2 separate regions of the Homo sapiens genome follow, and region 2 is linked to region 1. The links come from fine-mapping of genetic effects on plasma protein levels. Region 1 holds a variant in brackets. A gene starts in the other region. All regions are shown on their forward strands.

Region 1 (2,921 bases):
GTCAGTTAGTGAAATTAATCCAACCACACAAATGAAAGAATCTTATTATTTCGATCTCACTGATGGCCTTTCTTAATTTAAGTGGCTATGGGTATTTCTTTCATACTTTATTAAAGTATCAATATCCCTCTCTCCATTGTCCAGATGAAAATATCCTGATATAATGCACCAAAAACCATGCAGCTTCGGAACAGTCTAAAGAGAAGTGGTGAGACTCCCAGTGGAGACACCATCAGTCTCCACGGACTGCATAAAATTGTGTGCCACAATTCTAACTCTTTTCTGAATCTTCTTCCCAAGTTTTCTAAACTAGCACAGTAAACAGACAAACTAATGTGCCGTATGGCCTGCTGCAATTGGCTTCTCTGATAACAAATATGTACCTTACAACATATGTCATGAATTTGCATACAAAGATTCTTGTCATTCTTAATAAACTGTGGCACTTGGTATTTGAATGTGTGTGAAAATAAGGGAAGTCAAGAGATTAAATGCTGAACTTATTAATGGAATAGAAATAATAAGGAGGCTGAGGCTGGAGAATTGCTTGAACCCGGGAGGCGGAGGTTGCAGTGAGCCGAGATCGTGCCACTGCGCTCCAGCCTGGGCATCAGAGCAAGATTCTGTCTCAGAAAAAAAGAAAAAAAAAGAAATAATAAGAAAAACTTCCAGATTTCAAAGTAACAAGAAAGAAGACAGGTTGGCCAAAGGGAGGAAAGGGGGGACATAAATTAATTGACTTTCTATTCCCAAAATGGGCTAGTTATATCAAATAAATACTCCCACTGCCCTTTCTGAGTGAGAGTGTTTCTCATAAGTCAAAAATTTCTGTTTACTCATTAACTACTCTTTGCAACAGGCTTTCATATAGAAGTATTCTGTTTATTTTTGCTGAGCCTAGATTGAGTAATTCTTAGTTTACAGAAGCTCCGAGCTTAATGATAAGGATGAAAAGCAGAGGGAGCAATATAGAAGCAGGCTTGCTAATAAAACTTTTTAAATAATTGACAAGGGAATATTATGGAATGTGATGCAAAGTTTGTTCCGAAATTTTATGAGGAAATTACTCTCTAGTCTCACTTTATAGTCTTTTTGCTATGACTTTGAAGACCATTGATTTTTGAGAAGCAGAATAATAGGATTGCCTTTCATTGCCCTATAGTGCAAAGAAGGTATATGCTTTATAACCAATGTTGTACTTTTGCCTAGAAAAACAAGATATGGCTTTAAATAGCTACAATCATCTTTGGATGTATATGTCACTGCTGCTTCAAGTTATTGGATGCATTTGAACCTCTGAGTTTGTCTTTCATTTTAAATATTGTCTGTTCTTTTAAATAAACAACCACAGATGTCAGGAAAAAGTCTTACCTTGTCAACTGGTTGCTCCACTTTTTAAAAATGATTGAATGATAACATCATATTAACTGCGTTTTACTATACTTACAGAGTCACCTAAGGTCCTGCGAGTACAAGGGT[C/T]GACCCCCAAAGGCAGGGGCAGAGCCAGCATCTGAGAGGGAGGTCTCTTGACCAATGGGCAGAATCTTCACTCCAGGCACATAGCCCCAACCACCTCTGCCAGCAACCTTGAGAGGAAGGACAAGAAGAAAGATGGGATAGAATTTAAATAGAGAAGAATGCCATTTTATCACTCTGCCTCTGGGTGAAATAAAGATCAGTCTTGATGTTCTAACTCTAATTCACAGTGGTCTCCTTTCAGCCCTACCCATTCTGCAGCAAATTCCAGCTGGTCAGAGAGTCAGTGCTGTGGCTCTGCCATGGAGGCTCATAACCCAACACTGGAACATTCCCTAGCCAAGGCAGAAGTCCTTAGGCGGGACTTCCTTACCACCACGGGTGCTAAAAGAAGAGTTAGTAGGTCATGCTTCTACCAGTAATCTAAGGACTCTCTCCTTCTCTTCTTCCTCTTTCTCCAGATTTCCAAGCCTTAGCTAAGAGTAATTTGGCTTGTTTAGTATTGTTTTCTTATGGTCCAGTTAATTACCAAAAATATTTTTAAAATCATCTCTGTTAATAGAATGTCTACCAACTTCTCACTATCAGAAAATACTCAACCTCCAAACAATTTGAAATTATCTTTCTGATCCAGGTAAAGAAGCAAATTGAAAATCAATAAAGTAAAAAGTGACGGAGATTTTAAATTTTCTGTAATAAAAACACTTATTGGGTTGGGCATGGTGGCTCACGCCTGTAATCCCAGCACTTTGGGAGGCCGAGGTGGGTGGATGACCTGGCGTCAGGAGTTCGAGACCAGCCTGGCCACATGGCGAAACTCCATGTCTAATAAAAATACAAAATTAGCCGGGCGTGGTGGCACGCACCTGTAATCCCAGCTACTCCAGAGGCTGAGGCAGGAGAATCACTTGAGCCTGAGAGGTGGAGGTTGCAGTGAGCTGAGATTGCACCACTGCATTCCAGGCTGGGTGACAAAATGAAATTCAGTCTCAAAAGAAAAAAAACATTTATCGAACACCTATTACAGCCATTTGCTATGCTAGATAATTTACTTTTGGCATATAACTTAATCCTCACAACCACTCTAAGGCCCCCATGAACATCATTCTTTTACAAGGAAACTGTAGTTCACAGTGCCCTGCCCAGGGTCATATAGTTAATAAGTGGCAGGGCTGGCATTCAGACTTAGACCTTTTGAACTCCATTACACCATGTCATCTGAAGGCTTTATTATTAATGTTGTCATTACAAAAGACACACCAAGTCACTGACTACAGTCACAGAGACCCAATAAATTAAAAAAAAAAAAAGGCATGCCAAGACAATGTCTGACTCTGAGAGGATCCTTGTCTCAATCCAAAATATCCTTATTAAATACCTAATTGTGGCTGGTGCTGTTCTGTGTATTGGTCAGGATAAACTGAGTTAAGCAGCAGTCACTAACT
Region 2 (2,921 bases), not on the chromosome of region 1:
TTCCTTTTATTACTCTGACTGGGTAATTTCAAATGACCTGTATCTGAGCATGCTGATTCTTTCTCCTGCTTGATCTAGTCTGCTGCTGAAGCTGTTTGTGAATTTTTTCAATTCAGTCATTTTGTTCTTTAGCTCCAGAATTTCTGTTTCATTCTTTTTTATGGTTCCTATCTATCTTTTTGTTGAACTTCTAATTTTGCTCATGTATTGTTTTCCTGATTTTGTTTACTGTCTATCTATATTGTTTTGTAGCTTATTGAGCTTTCTTAAGGCAATTATTTTTAGCTCTTGTCATGCAGTAAAGATCTCCATTTCTTTAGGGTCACCTCCTGCTGCTTTATTTCCTTCCTTTGGTGGTTTCTTGTTTCCCCGATTATTTGTGATCAGTGTGGCCTTGCACTGAAGTAGGCACCTATTTCAGTCTTTACATACTAGCTTCAGCAGAGAAAGCCATTCACTAGTCAGATTGACCAGAGATTGTTGGTGGGCTGTCTGTTGGGGTCTATGCACAGGATTTCTGCTGGAGTTCTAAGGTGGGAAGGGCTGGATTCTGGGTTCATTCACTGTGGTTGTCTGTATTCTGTGCACAAGGACTGGCTTGAAGCATGGATCCTTGGGGGCTGACTTGGCACTGAAATGAGCCTTAAGCCTGCGTCTGCAGGGGCCAGCCTAACATGGGGATCACCTGGCACCTGAGTTCATGGGGATAGGCCTGTTCCTGAGTTTATTCAGGCTGTCCTGGGAACAAGGTCCACTGGGGTGAGCCCAGCATCTGGGTCCACATGGCCCAGCATGGAGCCAAGATCTCTGGAGGCTGACCTGGTGCTGGATCTGCAGGGGATGGCCTGGATTCTAGGCCCATGGGTGCCAACTTGGAGCCTGGGGTTGCTGGGGCTAACGTGGAGGCTAGATAGAGTCTTGGGGGCCAGGCTAGAGCTGGAGCAGGCCTGAAGTCTAGGTTTTGTGTGGCCATCTTGGAGCCTGAAGCCCCAGGGGCTGACCTGGTCTGGGGTGAGCATGGGGCTGAGGCCACAGAGGCTGGTCTGGCCTGTGGCAGGCCTGAATCCTGGTGCTGGGGTTTACTGGAGTGGGCTTGGTGCTTGGGATCTGTGGTGAAGTTAGGTTCTATCTTAACTGTCCCTCCTCCATGCAAGAGGGCATCTCTCTCCATACTGTGCTGCCCAGGCTTGAAGGTGAGATGACACCGGTAATGTGAAATTGTCCTTCCTATACACTTCTATGTGTCTTTTCTTATTTCTGTGCTGCAACCAGGTGGCATAACCTCTCACCTGATTCCTTAGCTCTAGTGAAGTTATTTTCGTGCATGGATACTTGTTCGAATTGATGTTTCTGCAAGGGATGAGCGCTAGAAACTCCTGTTCTGACAAACTCCTATTCCTATTCTTGCTGACATCACTCCCTGAAATAGTTAATATACTTAACAGCTGAACACGGATAGGATGTTCATGGAATATGTTGACAGGACAAAAAGTTGAAACTGTTGGCAGAAACCCAAAGTCAATATTGAAGCCAAGCAAAATATTGCCTGCAGTGCCACATTAGAACAGCTTGAAGACCGTTCATTTTTAAGTGACAAGAGACTCACCTCCAAGAAGCAATTGTGTTTTCAGGTAGCAAATTTTTATTATTCTGATTGTTTCCAAATAAACTATAATTTTTAAGTATAATTTTTTACTTTATGAGAAAATTAATCATTTATATTCTAATTTCCTGAGTATGTAGAGAGTATAGATAATGTTCCTTTATGTAGAAATATTTAAATGTAAGATGATTTTAAATCAGAAAGAATATTTGATTGATTTAAAATTTTTAAATGGGCTTTAATATTTTCAGAGGTTTTCTTTACTTAGGGATTTTTGGACTGACATTATTGCCATTATTTATTAATTTTGTTTTTGCCCAAATCAAGAGGTTTCATAATTGTTTACTCTCTCTCTACCAATTCCCTTTCCAACATTACTAGCCACAGAGTTGGCCAATGAACAATAAACACAACAGTAGTCTGGAGGTCTCAATTTGTATCTTGGGAAGCATTATAAATTTTCCAACTCCCTAGACACAAATGTACCAAAAAAAAACCCTTGTTTTCTATACCAGTAATTGTGTGCTTTGTCTTGCAATTCAGACATTTACAAGAAAATCTAAATCACCTTAAATTAAGATTTATGTTAAATGTGGTCTAAAACCAGCAGAGTTATGTATTGTTTTCTTTTTTAGAATGATTTTATTCAAGCAAGCAACTTATTTCATTTCCTTGTTTGCTACAGTTTCCTGTGGTAAGTGAATTATCTATAAAACATGGAATTCAGGCTAAGACAGGAGTAGCCAAGCAAGTGGCACCACCCCTGGAGAAAGCTATTGAACATACAGCTTCGGGGGTGGAGATTGTCCCTGATGATTCAGGACACGTGTCTATTTAATGTTCCACAACAAGGACCACTTGTCAGGTATATTGCTGTAGACATATGTTGCAGACCAGAGGAAGGAGCTCAGAAGTAGGAATGTCTTGGGACTTGTGTTAACAAAAACTTCTGTTCGCAGATGACACTCTGCAAAGCAAAACTTGAAACAAAAAAAAATTAGTCCTCTATTTTTATTATCAACAGTAAAAAATTAAACTTTATCTGAAAATTCAAAAGAGTGCTAGGCATTTTATAGTGTCTGGGTCCAATCCAAGTATCTGTTAGGAACACCATACATAGTTTTACTCTGGACCGCTAGGGAACCATTTCAAAAATGAAAGTAACTGGTTTAAATTTAACTTAGCAAACCATGCATTTGGATAGTTCTAGGTGAATAGCTTTCAACACCAGATTTAGATCTCATTTCTCTATTAATTTCATTAATTTTTGGAGAATAAAAATGATTCTGGACATTTCATTAATCATTACAGAGGGAGT

Direction of the effects. Positions count from the first base shown, and alleles are read on the strand shown. Strength reflects both the effect of a copy and how common the allele is.
With allele C in place of T in region 1, the plasma level of the protein whose gene starts at base 1,551 in region 2 is lower (moderate association).

What was found. PIP is the posterior inclusion probability: the model's chance that the variant is causal. The UK Biobank Pharma Proteomics Project read protein levels with antibody pairs (Olink). The fine-mapping took linkage between variants from a reference panel, not from the people measured, so its PIPs are less certain.
Region 2: it holds the start of KLKB1, and the variant in region 1 is fine-mapped to the plasma level of the KLKB1 protein (UK Biobank, PIP above 0.99).

What each region holds. Positions count from the first base shown.
Region 1 is chr3:186,742,256-186,745,176 of GRCh38, forward strand. KNG1 (kininogen 1) reads left to right here. Exons shown (of 10, transcript NM_001102416.3): 10 at 1-2,155. The coding sequence ends at 76. Among named protein-coding and RNA genes, the nearest start is that of KNG1, 26 kb to the left of the region's middle. The variant C/T (reference allele first, on the strand shown) is at 1,480.
Region 2 is chr4:186,225,957-186,228,877 of GRCh38, forward strand. It overlaps KLKB1 (kallikrein B1), which reads left to right and starts at 1,551. Exons shown (of 15, transcript NM_000892.5): 1 at 1,551-1,631; 2 at 2,239-2,297. The coding sequence starts at 2,240. RefSeq lists an enhancer at 58-728.